Linked DNA regions of Homo sapiens: region 2 is linked to region 1. A link means that fine-mapping ties the variant in region 1 to the plasma level of a protein whose gene starts in the linked region. Region 1 holds a variant in brackets. A gene starts in the other region. All regions are shown on their forward strands.

Region 1 (10,169 bases):
CAAGACCCACTGAATACACCTCTCCTGGCTCTCTGTTTAGTGTTTGGACGTTCAAAGATCCCTAGACTAGGCGGCGGGAGTTTCAGGGCCACGATCCAGATCTTACACCAACTGTGTGTGGCCCCGCACAAAATCACTCCCCGCTCTTTGGCACTTAAGTTGGCGAAACTGGGATGGGCTGGGACCTCAAAGGGCCATTCTAGTAGGGGAGTCACAGGCCCAGGTGGTGAAGGGGTGAAAGGGCATGATGTCTTGGGGTTTATAGTCCACTGAGCCTCGCCGGAGGTAACCCCGGCTCAGGGATGCTTTCGTTGCCATGGCAACCGCCGGGCCGGCGCGGGCCCCTGAGTGCAGCTGAGGAAGCTGGGACAAACCCTGCCCTTCCCAAGATGGCGGCGGCGGCAGGGCAAAGGGCGGGGTTAGACGCTGTCAGCCTGTCCAGACCGTTCCTCTGTTTTCGCTTGTTCCTACTAACAGCGAGCTTCCGCCAATACTTGTTCTCGTTCTTGGTTCCGAGCGTCCCGGGAGCCGGGAAGGGAAGGATTGTCTGCAGGGATTGGAGCAAATATCCAGTGGGGGGAAAGCCGGGACTTCCGCGTCTTGCCGGAAGTGACGTGACAATCGCGGCCACCGCCAGGTGGAACGGCAGGTGGGTTCAGGTACCAGCCTGGCCGGGACCCGGCTGTGGGACCAACGCTTCCGGTGAGCGACAGAGGCAGCTCCCCAGGGCCTGGAGACCCGTGGGGCGGACTCTGGGATCTGAGCCTATCGCCCTGGCCTGGAGCCCCCCTTTGTACCTAGTAAGAATCACCTACCCAGCCCCCCACCCGGAGACTGTCCCATCCCACTCCAGAGGGAAGAGGAGGGCACTGCTGTCCCGTATGAGGTGGTGGAGGGAGGGGTGGCGTTGGCATTTAGGCACTTGGGTTCCTTAAATCCTATGCTCCTTTCTCTCCCGGATCCAGTTCCCCATTCCCCTACCGAGCTGGGCAGTTAGCCAGCCCACTCCAACTCTCGGAACCATGTTTGCAGACTTGGATTATGACATCGAAGAGGATAAACTGTGAGTATTTTATTCCCCCAAGTTCCAGCAGTATAGGAGCCCCAAGTTCCTCATTTCCCTGGACTTCCCAGTCCCACAGACCCTTGCTTCTCAGCGGTGGATCAGTTGTTGTACTGAAGCAGCAATGGACCCTGCTCTCCCAGGAGCTCACTATTTGTAGGGGGCTGTGGACAGTTAAAGGGATAATCACAGCTCAGTGCCATAAGGGCACTATTAGCATGACTTGGTGACAAGAAGAGCAAAGCAGATGGAGCAGTGCTTCTGCTGGGATGGTCAAGGAAAGCTTCATGGAGGACGTAGCAATTGAACCAGGTTTTGAAGGTTGAATAGGAATATTGTAGACACCCTTCCTTCCCAACATAGGTTGTTAGTAGGACAGATTTTCCCATTAGAATATATCCTCTTTCAGATCAAGGAGTGGGTGCAATGCCTTTCTCTATGCTCAGCACTTAGTAAGGGACTTGACGTCAGTAGGTTGTTAGCGAATGTTTTTTGAATGAATAAGTGAATCAGCGTGAGTACTTATCATAAAACACCAGTCAATGCTAATTTATAGTGGAAACCGAGAGGTAATCGAGCAGTTGAGAGGTGGGAGGTGGACAGTTTAATAGAGGAAGACTCCCTGGAGTAGGTGGCCATCATACTACATAGATGCCTGATAAGGTGACAAGGACAGAACCTGGCTCAAATCTCAGAGATCGAATAAATGAAAGGGAAGGGGGACCTATTTTTATGGAGTGCCTGCTATGGACTGGGTTGCTGTTAGTGCCCTCCATGCATGGTTAGAAGAACTCTGATAAGGGTGCTCATCCACATTTTATGGATGAGGAAATTGAGATGCACAGAGGCTGACTTACCCAAGTCCCATAGCTGGCCAGGCACGGTGGCTCACGCCTGTAATCCCAGCACTTTGGGAGGCTGAGGCAGGCGGATCAACTGAGGTCAGGAGTTCAAGACCAGCCTGGCCAACATGGTGAAACCCCGTCTCTACTAAAAATACAAAAAAATCAGCCAGGCGTGGTGGCAGGCACCTGTAGTCCCAGCTACTTGGGCGACTGAGGCAGGAGAATCACTTGAACCCGGGAGGCGGAGGTTGCAGTGAGCCGAGATTGCGCCATTGCACTCTAGCCTGGGCAACAAGAGTAAGACTCCATCTCAAAAAAAAACCAAGTTCCACAGCTGATAAATGGCAGAGCTGGGGTTTGATCCCACATCTGCTTAACTCCAAGAGCTGTGCATGTTCCAGCACAAAATGTTGTTTTGTCCAAGGGAGGGAGAGAAAAAGCTGGGCAGCCAGTGGAGCCCCTCAGGAGTTTTAGAGGGCCCACCCGCTCCAGTCATCCTTCTGCCAGGAGAGTCAGCCTAGCTTGCTTTCCTTTCTAGCGGAATCCCGACTGTGCCTGGGAAGGTGACCCTGCAGAAGGATGCTCAGAACCTGATCGGGATCAGCATTGGAGGAGGGGCCCAGTACTGTCCCTGCCTCTATATCGTCCAGGTATTGGGCGCTTTGGAGGGGGGCACAAGGTACATCCCTACTTGGGCATGACAAAGGCAGGTTCATTTCTCCACACTGCATAGCTGACTCCTTCTCATTCTTGAGGTCTGACCCTCTCAGAGGGGCTTTCTGACCACCTGCGCTGCGTTGCTCTGCCCTGTCTTCTCCCCTGTGTCGCTCTGTTTTTTTCCTTCTCGGCACTTATTACTTGTTATTTGCCCTCTGTCTAGTAGAGTAGACTCTTTGCACTGAGGGCAGTGTCCTGGTTTGCTTTTTCACTGCAGTAAGCACCAGGTACAGTGCCTGGCACATAGTGGACATGCAATAGAAATTGACTATTGAATCAACAAAACCATCAGCCTTGCGTACTAGCCAAAATGAAGTGTCATAGGAACACGATGAAATAATGGCCTGAGTTCAAATGCAAGCTTCTTTCCTACTTACTAGCAAGTTACTTAACCTCTTTGGGCCTCAGTTTCATCACCTAGAAAGCGGGGATTTAAAACATGTAGACACAATCATCTCTGGGTTCTTGTGAGAAGTCAACAAAACGACCTAACACACTAGAAGTTAAGAAACGTGCATTGGCCAGGCATAGTGGCTCACACCTGTAATCCCAGCACTTTGGGAGGCCGAGGTGGGTGGATCACGAGGTCAGGAGTTCGAGACCAGCCTGGCCAACATGGTGAAACCCCGTCTCTACTAAAATACAAAAATTAGCTGGGCGTGGTGGTGCACGCCTGTACTTCCAGCTACTTGGGAGGCTGAAGTAGGAGAATCGCTTGAACCTGGAAAGTAGAGGTTGCAGTGAGCTGAGATCACGCCACTGCATTCCGTGCATTCCAGCCTGGGTGACCGAGTGAGACCCTGTTTCAAAAAAAAGAAAGAACCATGCATTAAGCAGTAGCTGCTGCTATTTTCCAGGTAGCTGTACATTTTCCCAGATGCTCTGCCAGTGGTGAGGAACACTCTTGTGTCTCTTGCAGAGGAAGCTGCACTGGTGATATTCTGTCCACTGTAACTCAGGAGTGGTGACAGGCCTGCTGTGGGGCCTCCTTCACTGTGTGGCTCATCCAAGTCAGTGACCTTGCTGTAGCCTTGGGAATACCTGTTCTAACCCTCTCACTGGTGGCAGATGGGAAACTGGCCTCTGTGAGGATCTTGCTCAGGAGTCGCTTGTAGGCCTCGAAGACAGATTCCCAGGATCGACCTGGTCTTGCTTCTGCTCACAGTGCTGCCTCCTTC[A/G]TGAGCCATTCGGCCTCCTGTGACCCAGGAGGCATTAGCAAGACCTCCCCCAGGCCTGGCCTCCTGGCCGTGTGTCTGCTCAGCCTCTCGCCACCTCCCTCTACCTACCTCAGGTGCAAGTTTGCTTAGAATGAACAGACATCATAAAATAGTATAATTGATTTTTTTTTTTTTTTGAGACAGAGTCTCACTGTGTTGCCCAGGCTGGAGTGCAGTGGCGTGATCTCAGCTCACTGCAACCTCTGCCTCCTGGATTCAAACGATTCTCATGCCTCAGCCTCCCGAGTAGCTGGTATTACAGGTGTGCGCCATCATGCCCAGCTAATTTTCGTATTTGTAGGAGAGAGAGGTTTTAGCTATGTTGGCCGGCCTGGTCTCGAACTCCTGGCCTCAAGCGATCCACCCACCTCAGCCTCCCAAAGTGCTAGGATTACAGGCATGAACCACCAGCCAATAAAATAATAGAACTGGCCGGGTGCGGTGGCTCACACCTGTAATCCCAGCACTTTGGGAGGCTGAGGTGGGCAGATCACCTGAGGTGAAAACTTCCAGACAAGCTTGGCCAACATGGTGAAACCCTGTCTCTACTAAAATACAAAAATTAGCCAGGCATGATGGCGGGTTCCTGTAATCCCAGCTACTTGGGAGGCTGAGACAGGAGAATCGCTTGAACCCGGGAGATGGTGGTTGCAGTAAGCCGAGATCGTGCCATTGCACTCCAGCCTGGGCAGTTGAGTGAGACTCCGTCTCAAAAATAATAATAATCATCATCATCATAGAATTGATTTTTTTAAATTCAATTTTGTTTTTATCAAAGTGCCATATGACTTGCCTCTACCAAGTCAAGAGCATTAAAAGCCCTGTATCAAATAATAGCAATCCACTGCCCTTCCCCTGGGCACCTCACCCGGCTTTCTCTGTCTCTTCATGCATGGGCTTCCATTTTTCTCAATAGTCTCACTCTGTCGCCCAGGCTGGAGTGCAGTGGTGCAAGCATGGGTCACTGCAGCCTTGATTTCCCCAGACTCAGATGATTCTCCCACTTGAGCCTCCAAGTAGCTGGGATTACAGGCACGTGCCACCAAACCTGGCTAATTTTTGTGTATTTTTTGTAGAGACGGTGTTTTGCCATGTTGCCCAGGCTTGTCTCAAACTCTTGGGTTCAAGTGATCCACCCGCCTCAGCCTCCCAAAGTGCTGGGATTACAGGCGTGAGCCACCGTGCTCAGCCTATCCTGTTGTTTCTTGATCTATCACCTGTAAATATCTATTGACTTTGCCTCGTCTGGTAGATGAGAATTTAGTTCTTCCCATGACCAGTCTGTTTCCTCTCATCCCACCTTTCCAACATAGTTATTTTTCTATTTTTGGCTAAATTAATATTAGTACAACGGAGATTTTGTTCGGGAAATCTTTTCCAGATGCCTCCTAGGCTCTGTTGTAGGCACTAGGGATAAAAGAATAAGAAAGCAAAGATCCTACTCTTGCGGAGCCCTCATTCTAGTCAAAACAACTCTATGTTTAACTTTCTGAGGAATCTATGTTTCTTTTCTTAATTCAGCCTGTTCTTGTGTTTTGAGAGGGTGGGGGTAATTTCCTGTTTTGTTTTTTTCATTTGCACTCTCCTTGTTTTCTCAGTATGTTTTCCACAATTTCCCATCTTTTTTTTTTTTTTTTTAAATTAAGTCTTGCTCTGTTGCCAGGCTGGAGTGCAATGGCGTGATCTTGGCTCACTGCAACCTCCAGCCCCCGGGTTCAAGTGATTCCCCTGCCTCAGCCTCCGAAGTAGCTGGGATTACAGGCACGTGCCACCACGCCTGGCTAATTCTTGTATTTTTAGTAGAGACGGGGTTTCACCATGTTGGTCAGGCTGGTCTCGAACTCCTGACTTCAAGTGATCCACCTGCCTCGACCTCCCAAAGTGCTGGGATTACAGGCGTGAGCCACCATGCCCGGCCCCATTTTCTTCAGTCTGTTTTCCGCCCTGTAGTCTCTCCCCCTTGTGCCCTCCCCCTGCCCCTGCCCCTTCTCTTTGGATTCCCCCATCTTGGGGGTCCCTTTCCTGGTTTACTCCCTGATCTCCCGTGGAGAATATCCTCCTGTAGCTTTCTGAGAAAGGGCACGTGGGATGTCAATTTTTTGAGACCTCGGGTCTGTCTTTTTTGGTCATTGTGGTTCCCATATTCCTTTCAGTTGACATTTTGGCTCATTCGATTCAAGAATGAACGTCAAGGTTGACAGTAATTCCTGTGTGGAAGTGTGATGGCCTTGTCACATTGTCCTTTGCTGTCACATGGCTATTGCCATTCTTATTGGTGATCCTTTATTTGTGATGTGTTTTATTTCTGATCTGTGAGAACTTTGAGGACTTTGTTTTTGTCCCTGGTGTTGGGAGGAGTCGTGATGGTAGCTGCAGGCACAGGCTTTTGTTTATTGTGCCAGATCCTCAGAGGGCGTCATCGGGAACACCATGTCCTTCTTGTCATGTATCTCGATGATGACATCCTGCTTTCTGTATTCTCTGTTCTGCTTTTTTCTATTTTTTTATTGTGGTAAAATTTACCATCTTAACTTTTTTTTTTTTTGAGACAGGATCTTGCTCTGTCGCCCAGGCTGGAGTGCAGGGGTGCGATCATGGCTCACTGCAGCCTCAACCTCCTGGGCTCAAGCGATCCTCCCACCTCAGACCCCCGAGTAGCTGGGACTACAGGCACGCGCCACCATGCCTGGCTCATTTTTGTATTTTTTTTGTAGAGACAGAGTTTTGCCATATTGCCCAGGCGATCTTCCCACCTCGGTTTCCCAAAATGCTGGGATTACAGGTGCGCACCACCGTGCCCAGCCCTTGGTCTATTTTTGAATTAGGTTGTTTGGTTTTTGTTGTTGAGTTTTAAGAATTCTCTACAAAGCACAATCGGCTAAGAGGAAAAAAAGAAAAAAGAGTTTTAGGAATTCTGCATATATTCTGGATATTAATCCCTTATCAAAAATGTGATTTGCAAATATTTTCTCCCATTCTGTGGGTTGCCTTTCTTTTCTTCTCTTCTCTGTTCTTTTTTTTTTTTTTTTTCGAGACAGTGTCTCACTCTGTTGCCCAAGCTGGAGTACAGTGACGGGATCTCAGCTCACTGCAGCCTCTGTTTCCCAGGCTCAAGCGATCCTCCCACCTCAGCCTCCCAAGTAGCTGGGACTACAGGCGTACACCACCATGCCCAGCTAATTTTCGTGTTTTTTGTAGAGACAAGGTTTTGCCACATTGCCCAGACTGGATGGTGTATTTTGATGCACCAGTTTTAAAATTTTTATGAAGTTCAATTTGTTTATTTTTTGTTACTTGGATCTTAGGTGTCACATCCAAGAAATTACTGTAAACTCCAATGTCGTGAAGGTTTTGGACTAGGCATTTTTCTGAGTTTTATAGTTTTAACTTTTACATTTAGGTCTTTGAACAATTTTGAGTTAATTATTATTATTATTATTATCTTCGAGACAGAGTCTCGTTCTGTTGCTCAGGCTGGAGTGCAGTGACATGATCTCGGCTTACTACAACCTCCACTTCCCAGGTTCAAGCGATTCTCCTGCCTCAGCCTTCTGAGTAGCTGGGACTGCAGGCGCCTGCCACCATGCCCAGCTAATTTTTGTATTTTTAGTAGAGATGGGGTTTCGCCATGTTGGCCAGGTTACTCTCGAATTCCTGACCTCAGGTGATCTGCCTGCCTTGGCCTCCCAGAGTGTTGGAATTACAGGTGTGAGCCACTGCGCCTGGCCTTGAGTTAATTTTTGTATGTGGTGTTAAGTAGTGTCAACTTCATTTTTCACATACCATTGTTGAAATGACTGTCCTTCCCCATTGAATGTTCTTGACACCCTTGTCAAAAATCATTTGATGCCGCCGGGCACGGTGGCTCACACCTGTAATCCCAGCACTTTGGGAGGCCAAAGCAGGTGGATCACCTGAGGTCGGGAGTTTGAGACCAGCCTGACCAACATGGAGAAACCCTGTCTCTACTAAAGATACGAAATTAGCCGGGCGTGGTAGCGCATGCCTGTAACCCCAGCTACTCGGGAGGCTGAGGCAGGAGAATTGCTTGAACCCGGGAGGCGGAGGTTGCGGTGAGCGAGATGGCGCTATTGCACTCCAGCCTGGGCAACAAGAGCGAAACGCCGACTCAAAAAAAAGAAATCATTTGACTATGTATTTGAGGCAGGAGAATTGCTGGAGCCCAGGAGTTCAGTGCCACAGTGAGCTGTGATCACGCCACTGCACTCCAGCCCGGGTGGTGAGACGCTTTCTCAAAAAACGAGAGCAGAGGGTAGAGTGGAAGACAGAGCCAGGCAGTGGTCAGGTGTCTTCCCAGGTTCCATCTTAGCCCTCCCTTTCTTCCCCCACCACTCTCCTTATGCACCCACAGGTATTTGACAACACCCCAGCAGCCTTGGACGGCACAGTGGCAGCTGGCGATGAGATCACCGGTGTCAATGGCAGGTCAATCAAAGGGAAAACTAAGGTGGAGGTGGCGAAGATGATTCAGGAGGTGAAGGTAAGGGCTGCTGCAGAGCAGGTGTCCAGAGGCAGCAACACATGTTTCTGAGACCTCCAGGCTGCCAGAGGTCCCAGCAGGCCTGGAAGGGGGTATCAGCCCTCACCGCCCCCTTCCTTGTCATGTGCAGGGTCAGGGTCACACTCCAGCCTCCCTCATCCATCCCTCATTCATTCAATAAATACTAATCGTGCTCCAGGACTTGTGCTGAACCTTGGCAAGAGAGTGGGCAGCAAGACCACAAGGTCCCCATGAGCTCCCAGGGAGCTGACAGACTTGGAACCACCCCTCAGGCAAGCCCATGTGTCCCCAGTCAGTGCCAGAGCTGAAGCTAAAAGTCCAAGGTGATCCTCCCTGGGTCAGTAGACACCCAATAATGTCAGCCGGGTCACGCTGGGCCTGTGAGGGCTAGGAGGGAAAGAAGAGTGCCCTTTCCCCATCCTGTAGGAACTTTCGGTCCCACACAGCCTCCTGGGCTCATAGACACCCAGAGACCCCCCTCCCAGGCCAGCTGATCTTCTGCTCTACAGACCAGAGTCACACACTGCCTGCCCCGCTTTCCCCCACCCCTGCCGCTCCAGGACTGGAATGGCAGGCGGCATCCCGGCCTCTCCTGAAGCGAGCATGCAGCCCCTTTGCCATTTCCTAGCGAAGTGGCTGCTAGCTAGTCTCAGGAAACCAATACTGTGAAAGAACTGATGTGCAGGCAGTGCACAGCCATGGGGTGATTTGAAAGTCTCGGGGGCAAGGGTCCCCACTGTGAGTTCAGCTTGGCCAAGGGTGGCAGCTACCTCCCTCAGCCCCACTTCCATCCTCCGGGTTCTGGCACTCCTGATAGTCCGCCTTCCTGCCTTAACCCAGGCCAGCCGCTGCTCCATCCTCTCTCCCCTTTATCCTCCTGTCCTGCTCCTGAGTAGTCCGTGCTTCTCTCCTTCCTTGCTGTAGGAAGAGTCCCATCCTGCACATTCTCCTATTCCAGCCCCTTTAGCCATAGGACAAATCAGGGCCTGGGGCTGGGGCTCAGAGCTCTGTTGTAAAAAAAGGAAGCAGCAAGGTTCATTGAGACCCCACAGCTGCCACTCCACGTGGTCTGGGTATCACTGCCTCAGGTATGACCTGTTAGGCAGAGGAGCTGATCATGGGAACAGGTGCAGGGGGTCTCGTTCTGGCCGAGTTGGGTTGTGTGTGCCCCATTTGGCAGCCCTTCCCCCCTCCGCATCTCCTCCCCATCTCCACTCGCCAGGTCCCTCCCTGTCCTCTCAGGCTTGGTCATACCAGCACCTCAGGTTGCCCATGAGGACAAGAGCTCTTTGTATTTGCACACAGCCATGACAGGGATGCAGCATTGGCCCAGCTCCCCTGTTTGGGTGCTGGGCAGGGATTACTCTCCCATCTTACAGGTGTCCACAGGCGGGGAGTGACCTGCTTGTGGTCACACAGCTGAACTGGAGCCCGGGCCCGACTCCCACTGCAGCCCGCTTGCCGTTGGCCTACAGCTGCTCCCTGTGGGGTGGCCCCTGAGCACGCCTGTGTTTCATTCTGCGGGAGCAGTTCACACCCCACCTCTGACTCTGATTGCATCTGCTCATTTTGGTTTCCCTTTGGGACTTGATTTTAAAATCCTGTTTTATATTTGGATGAATGTGGTCCCAAGTTCAAGGGCTTTTGGTTTGCAAGGATGAGAGTGAACACAGCGCCCTCCCGTGCTCAGGCAAGTCCTCTTGGGAGAAGCCTTTGTCTCCTGAGCAGTCGTTAGAAAGTGGTTTGTGTAATTCCCTGATTCGCATCAGCCTTGCGGGGCTGGGGCTGCCCCTGCCCCTCCCCTT
Region 2 (8,000 bases), not on the chromosome of region 1:
ACTATATGATCATGTATGCTCAGCTAACAGCACCACACTTGCGTCTGCTGGGTCATCTAGTTGGCGTTATTTGAGAACTAATAAAGATCCCTTTTTCAGGTTCTCTCTACTTTCTCAGGAAATAAACAGCAGCAAAGCCCAGAGCTTATAAAGCACAAGACTGGTTATTTTGATGGGGGTCAGGAAAGACAGGGATATTGGGCATGTACCCTCTAGGGCAGACCAGGTAGAAAACCCAGAAAGTTGCTTGAAGGTACTGAGTTCCAGGTTAGGAGTGCAGAGAAGAGAGAAACAGGAAGCAGAAAGTGGGGAGTGGCTTAGCACAAACACAACACAATGTTTACATACTTCACAATGATGCCAATGCTGCAAATGGCAACACTGAGTCAACAGCATTAGGCACCAGGACACTTAGCTCCTGGCCTTCAGGGAGCAGTGGGAAGAAAACCCTGCAGGGTGGTGACAGGCAGTCTCCCTCTTCACGCACTCTGGGGAACCATGGCCTTGGCACTGCGCTGGGCACCTTCTGTCACAGTTTCCACTCTCTGTGCACCCCTGCTCACTTCTTTGGAGCTATCCAGAATCATGACCACAACCTGCTGTTCGCTTCCTTCTCCCTAGGAAGGACAGCTCCTACACTCTTACCCCTGCCCACCTTAGTCCATCTTTCTGTCTCTTCTCTTTCATGTTAATCAACCTCCCTTGGCTTCTACCATCAGGCCTCATTCTTCAAACTCTTTCTCAGTTCCCATCCTCTTCCTTCTCTTCACAGTCAAGAGTTCTAAGCCCATGCTCTCTGGTTCCTTTCTCCACCAGCCCAGAGAACATCTTTCACTATGGGCCCCACTCAAGTCCTCATTTCTCATGACTTTTGACCACGTTCTCTTCCTTTCTTGAAATGCTCCTCTTCCTCTACTTTTCAGGAAATATTCTCCACACTTTTCTATCTTTTCAATTTTCTTTGCTAGCTTCTTTTCCTCTGTGTCTGCATCTCAAATATCAGTATCTGTAAGGTTCCAAGCTTGGAACTTTACTTGCTCTCATTAGGTGATTTCTCATTAGGTGAGGCCACTTCCATGGCTTCAACTGCCAGCTGTATGCCAACAACTTCCAAAATCACACACCTCTCCAGGGCACCAGATCCACATTTCCACCTCCAGATGGTAATCTTCACCTGGATTGTTCCACAGGCACTTCAAATTCAGCACATCTAAAACTAAACTCCTCTTTCCATCTGCACTCTCAAATTCTTCTTTCTGTGGTCCCTATGTTAATTACCAGCACTAAATGTACTGAATGGCCTAAGTTGAAAACCTCACTTCTTTCTCTTTTTTTTTTTTTTTGGCAGGGTCTTGCTCTGTTGCCCAGGCTGGAGTGCAGTGGCACAATCATGACTCACTGCAGCCCTGACCTGCTGGGCTCAAGCAATCCTCTTACTTAGCCTACCAAGTAGCTGGGACTACAGGCACATACCACCACACCCAGCTAATTTTTTAAATTGTTGGTAGAGATGAGTTCTCACTATGTTGCCCAGGCTGGTCTCAAACACTTGAGTTCAAGCAATCCTCTTGCCCTGGTCTCCCAAAGTGCTAGGATCACAGACATGAGCCACCACACCCAGCCTCTTTCATCTTTTGCAACCAGTCTCCAGGTTCTCTCCATTCTACCTCTTAAAAAGCGATTGAATGCATCTTATCTTTTCTATCTTCACAGCTTAGGCCTTAAGAGGCAATGCTATCTGTGTACCTGTCCATTCCAATCTTTACAACACTGCCCGACCTATCACTATATGATGCAAATCAAATTTTTCCACTCTCCTACTTAAAATGTTTTAATTGCTTTCTCTTGCCACTAGAGAAATTCCAAACATTTTTTGAAAAAACACAGGCCCCTTTACATCCTGGCTCCCTTCCCCCCAAATCTTACTCTCCTCCCCACCCTCCGATAGAACTATTCCCTCTGCGCATGTCAGAACGCTTGAGCTTCCCTGAATATACTATGCACTTCAAGGACTTGAGATGATTCTTTCCACTTGGAATGCCCTCCCCCTCCTTTGTCTGATTGCCTAACTTAGAATTTACATCAAGACTCTCCTCAAATGTTGCCTCTTCAGTGAAGTATTCCCAACTCAACATCTCGTCTCTATCCCTCTCCCCATGGGTCTTGCACTCCAGACCTCCCCACTGAAGAGTTAACTGCTCCATACTGGTGGTGCCACTGCACTCCTGTACTCTCCTTCAAGGAGCTAATTACATCTGTATCTCCTGCACTAGACTGTAGGTCCCATGAGTACAGGGACCCTCAAGTTCATCTTTGCCTCCTTAGCACCAAGCATGGCCCCTGGAGCACAGTAGCCATTCAGTACATATGTGCTGGGCAAGGGGCAATAATTATGTTCTACCACTTACCAAGCACTTTACATGTGTGAAGCACTTAACATCATTATGTCATCGCCACACATTATGAAGGGGATATCAACCCATTTTGCAAGTGAGAAACAAAGTTTAGAAGGACGAAGTAATTTACCCAAAGTCAACAACTGGTAAACACAAGTTTACTTTTGACTTCTGAGCTCCTGTTTTTAACTACTCTGCTCTACTCTTGGATGAAAGGAGCTTGATTAATGGGGCTGTTTCAATAAAAACAATCTCCCCCAATCACAGGCTTAGGTGCTGGGTTAGGCCCAAATCCACTGCCAATATAGTGCTACTGTGCACAACAAAACCTGCAATTGCTGATTGATTTCTTCCTTGATAGTTGTCAGGGTTCCTATGACTAAGGAGAGGGGCACTATTTATAAATATCAGCTTCTTGGTTTCTGGCTTAGAATGCTCTACCCTGGAAATATCACAGAGAAGACCGGATTTTCCCCTAGGTACTATTAGGTTTCAGAAACTGATGTCTATGCCCTGTTCTGGGAACAGAGATGTGGCAGTGAGTGTGATCATGATGATGGTAAGAGATGGATTTCAATATGTATACTCTTGGAACATTGTTGCAATACTTAAGAGTCACTTCTTGTACAAATACTTTCACTAACTAGAACCAGAGGACCTTTCTAGTCTCCAATCTAGACTCTTAAAATTAACAATGACTACTATCTATATATTCAGTGGTCCATCACTGAACACATATACCTCATATTTTCCACTCCACAGAACTATATTGCATTCAGTCACCCTCTCTTAATTCATGTATTTTCTGCTAAATGTATTCTAAAATTGAACTCTGCAATGTTCTCTGATTCTAATGACTTTTTAATATTAGTCCCCTATTTTCTACTAATACCTCCACCACCTCCACAACCATGCAACGAATATTTAGAATCAGTCCTGTGCTTACACTAATTAGTGCATCTAATCCTCCTGAATCACAGATGATCAGACTTGTCCAAGGCCACTCAGCTAGTAAGGGACACACATAGACACTGGGCTCCAGACACGAGGACTATTTGTATTAGCATTCTCTCCCTTACTTGTTGACTTTTGTACACACATACACATGGTTGGGAGTGGGGAACGCTCTTTCTCCCCACTCCCAACCCTTATTTACCTGCTGAATTCCTACTGGTTGTTTCAGGCTCAACTCAAGGGCAATCTCCTCCATGAAGCATCTCAGGGTTTCTCTGCCCTTTCTCCTGTTGGGGTGGGATGCCCCCGCCCTGGGCTGCATTACCACCTGTGTCTCTATCTCCTTCTTGCTTTCCCTGAAAGGCAATTGGTTAGTTGACTCCTCTCTTTCCCTCTTTTACTCAGCTGTACGCTCCTCCAGAGCATGGTGGGGTCTGAGTCTTGGGATTCTGAGTGTTTAGCACAGTGTGTAGCTCATGGCACATATACAACCAATGCTTGTTCAATACTAAGTCATCCCACTTCTCTGATTTGGTCAAAGGCCTGATGGATGATGTCATCTGACTTAGCAAGAGAGACAGATGATTCCCATCATGAGTGATGCAGGCCATCATTTCCCCACCTTTTCATGAACTCATTCTAGCTCACTAGGTTTACACTGGGACAAGGAGTTACCACTAATTGAGGAACTGCCACTTCTCAGACACTGGGGTGTATGCTTCACCCACATCACGGAGTATCCTCGCAATACGGCCAAGTTGACATAATGATTTATATTCATTTCACGAAGAAGTTTAAGTTCAGTTATCTTAAGCAACTGGCCTACAGTCACATAGTAGGCAGGCTTTGTTATAAAAACAGGTATAAAATGCCCTATCACATGTAGTCTTCCCTGTCCTGGAGAGATTCATTAGTTATTTGTGAAAATTACTTACAGGTCAAAAAACAAAAACTATGTTAATTTGATGCTATAATACTAAATAGTAAATTGCTAGAATAGTGAAAGTGTGGTCAGCCAGGATTTTTAGAGGCTCCAAGGCAGTTCTACCATATGCATCTATCCAGGGCAAATCATGCCTGCAGTCCTTATCAGACAGATGGAGATTATAATATCTACTTATCTCAAAGGGGGTTGAGTATCACATAAGATCATAGTTGCCAAAGTGCTTTGTGAAGGAAGAGGACAGAGGCTCATTTTAGAGTAGTGTGCTGGACAGTCTGTGGGAGACCCTAGGGATCAGAGCTACCTGAGATGTTGCTTAACAGCAGATGAAGGAAGCTTGACCGGGAATCCACACTTATTTTAACAAGCCCCCAAATGATTCTCTGGGACACTAAAGTTTGAGAAATAACAGGTTACAGCATTGCTTCTCAAATGTTAACATACTCATGGAGATCTTGTTAAAATGGAGATTTGAATTCACTGGGTCTGGAAGAGAGTAGCAGGCACGCTAAGATTTTGCATTTCTAATAAGCTCCCAGGGGAGGCCACATGCTACTGGTCCATGGACCACGTTTGAGTGACAGGGGCTTGGAAGATCTATCCCCACTGGAACAAATTAGATTTGTTTTGTTTCTGGTTGCACCCCCCAACTTCAGAGAGTGTTTTCCATAAAGCCCAGGGTCTTAGTATTGGTACAAAATTATTTGAACTACTCAAAACCAAATTGAAATACACTTCCTATCACAGGCAAAGCAGCAGCATTCTTTTTAGATACGGATAGCATATGTTTAGCATGTGAAAAAATAATTTATTACTACTGAGTGAGTCCTATTTAAAAGCGTGCAAAGCATTTTATATACATTATCTCTAATCTCCACCCTGCCCCTAAAAAGGTGGATATTCCTGTTCTGTAGATAAGGAAATGGTGACTTAAGTAACTTGGTCAAGGTCACACGGCTAGTTAGGTGTTACCGCAGGGATTCTGATTTTGCTCCATCAGGATCCAAAGCCCATGAGTCCTCCATACTCCCTCAGAGTGTTAGATATGATTGTGATACGAAATGTATCAGCTTGGGAATCAAGAAAAAAGCGGGGGAAAAGTGTTTTTTGAGTTTAAAGTTCTGCTGAGGCAGATTGCGAATGGTGGTGGGGTTGGGGGATAAGATTCATTAGTGATCTATGTTGCCTCATGGACAAAACATGCAGATAGCATCCTTATTAATGGTTCCCATAAATCTAGTAATGCAGATGGAAAAAAAGGACACTAGTGACCAGCGTGCTGATTATAAACACTGCCACCTACCCTCAGGCTCAACCAACGAAGAGGAAAAATTCATCCTGACACTTGGGGCCTGTTAACTTCCTCCCTCTCTCGCATGAGGTTTCTATAATCTTAAAAGTTCATACCAAACATAGGTTTATCCTTCTACGTTATGGCATAACTACCAGACCTCCATACCGCTAATGCTGCTTGCACCTGAAAAAAATGTACTATTTAGTCAAATACCTTGAAAACGTACTGATTTTGAAGGCTCTGAGTAACAAAATTTTCTATACTTTTCGTGAGATTGATCTTTATGCACTGCGGTAAAGATGCGTAGAGAAAGCAGTCAGATAGTTACTCAGGTGTTCCAAATGGGGGAAAATAGTTACAAAATAAACCACCCAGGCAATTACCATCCAGTATCTTTAGCACTCAATGATCCACGGGTGGAGGATACAGGGTTAACGTTTTTTAACATCAGGTCTCTCCACAAATAGCCCGCTGTAGCTTAACTGTTACGTTTTCTAAAGATTCATCTTTATAAACAGTACAATTATTTCCCTTTGTAATACAAACAGAAACAATTAGAAAGCAACATCTCCTGCAATTAAGATGTATGTACAGTATTAGTATAAAACCAAAGAGTGATATTTGAGCTATTCAGGATTATAAATTGATTTTGTCCCTGTGGTATTCTCTACAAAGGGTGTTTCAAAAATAAAGACTGAAATCTAAAAATATATCTTTGGTTTGAAAACTTACTTAAAAGCATTTTTAGAGAGTGTGTGTTTTAAACAGGGGGTATGAAATTGCATCGGGAGCCTAGATTTCAAACTAAGCATTTCTTATTTCACTCCCTAACCACAGAACAGTTCAGATCTCAGATTCAAACCAGAGGGCCACAGAAACCAATTTGAGATTTTCCGAAGAGACTTCACTGAAACGTATGGACAAAAACATGTTTGCGATGAGTCATATTTTATAGGACCTTAATGGCCAATAAATGCCTTATGTGTCTTTCTTCCTACATTCAGTATCACTCCCAAGCAAGCTGGTGACATATTTTCCAGGCCTTGATAATTTTTATACCGTTACCAGATCTCGGTTACTAAGATTCATGAACAAAACCCTTTCTTGCGCTAATTTTTTAATGCCATCTAAATGAAGAGAACGCGATTCTTTCCAAACTAACTCTCCCCAACCAGGCAGTTAATGCCCTTCGCCAGAATAAGGGCGCGATACTTTTAAGACCCCAAAGAGAAGCTCAGGTGCTTTGGGGGTACTACAAGTAAAAAGACAGTGGGAAAGGTTCCTGGAGAGCCGCTTTGGGGGAAAGGCAGACATAACAACAGGATATGTTCGTTTCTAGAGGAAGCAGGAGCTGCAATAGCCCCGGAGCAGGAAAGGCGGAGTCAGCAGCGCCCAAAGGAAACGGGCGCGCCAGGGTTTGCTGGAACCGGGGTTGCTTAGGGGTTCTCGCCCCGTCTAGTCCGAGACTGCTGAGCACCTCGCCCCCGGGGGACCAAGCTCAGGCCTCCTGGCACTAGTGGTTATAAAGAGGTACCCATATGCTCTCTGCCGCCCCTGCCAAAAAAAGGGCCACGGAGGGGAAGAGAAAAAGCACACACCAGGCGCCGCGGCAGGTGAACTTGTCAACAAGTCAACCCTGGACGCAAGTCCCTGCCCACCAGGGAGCTCGGGGTCCTGGGGCCGGAGCCGCCGGGAAGGCGAGGCGCGCGGTGGGTGGGTGGGGTGGGCTGGCATGGGTGCCGGTGCTCCCAGCGCTGGGGCCGGAGCGCGGAACGCTTCCCTACCGCTCCCCCGGGGCTGACGCACGCTCTCACGGCGCGCGCATCCTCCAGACCTTCCCAGGCCGGAGGGAGGAGGGGAGGGGAAGGGGCTGATGCGGTTCCCGCACCGGGATCCGGGACCCGAGGAGGCGACTCGCCTATCACGCGCCGCCCGCGGAGGGCAGAGAAGGCAGCTCCTACCAGGCGTCCCCGACCGTCCCGGCTGCCGGGCGTCTCCTGCTGCTTCCTGCAGCCCGCCCGGCGCGCCCCCGCCCCGACCCCGGAGGGCAGGTACCTCGGAGCCCCGGCCCCCAGGAGCCTCCCGGCCGCGGTCGGAGCGTCCCTCCGGATCACTCATCCGACGTCAGCGTCAGCCGAAGGCGAGGGAAAGGGGCGGGGGGAGCGCAGGAACCGGCCCTTCCTGCGGCGGCCGCCACCAGCCGGAATAGCAACCGGCGGAGCCCGTGCGCACCGCAGCGCAGCGCAGCGGCCGGGGGGTGCGGGCGCCCTCGCCGCCCGGCTACCTACCGCCGCCTGGGCGCCGCCGCTGCCTCCCTTCCCCGCTTCTACCCTCCAGCAGACGCCCGCCGGAGCGACCCCTCCCAGGGTGACCGGGGGAAGGTGGGTGGCGTTGACCTCACCTTGCTTGGGGA

Which allele goes with the higher level. Alleles are on the strand shown, and positions count from the first base shown. The strength of an association depends on the size of the effect and on how common the allele is.
With allele A in place of G in region 1, the plasma level of the protein whose gene starts at base 7,716 in region 2 is higher (moderate association).

Evidence for each region. PIP is the posterior inclusion probability: the model's chance that the variant is causal. The UK Biobank Pharma Proteomics Project read protein levels with antibody pairs (Olink). The fine-mapping took linkage between variants from a reference panel, not from the people measured, so its PIPs are less certain.
Region 2: ICA1 starts here. The variant in region 1 is fine-mapped to the plasma level of the ICA1 protein (UK Biobank, PIP 0.91).

Annotation. Positions count from the first base shown.
Region 1 is chr22:38,056,788-38,066,956 of GRCh38, forward strand. PICK1 (protein interacting with PRKCA 1) reads left to right here and starts at 617. Exons shown (of 13, transcript NM_012407.4): 1 at 617-800; 2 at 966-1,063; 3 at 2,447-2,558; 4 at 8,215-8,343. The coding sequence starts at 1,023. RefSeq lists enhancers at 69-694, 391-450, 695-1,318. The variant A/G (reference allele first, on the strand shown) is at 3,804.
Region 2 is chr7:8,254,452-8,262,451 of GRCh38, forward strand. ICA1 (islet cell autoantigen 1) reads right to left here and starts at 7,716. Exons shown (of 14, transcript NM_001136020.3): 1 at 7,643-7,716. ICA1-AS1 (ICA1 antisense RNA 1) reads left to right here and starts at 7,774. Exons shown (of 6, transcript NR_125740.1): 1 at 7,774-7,968.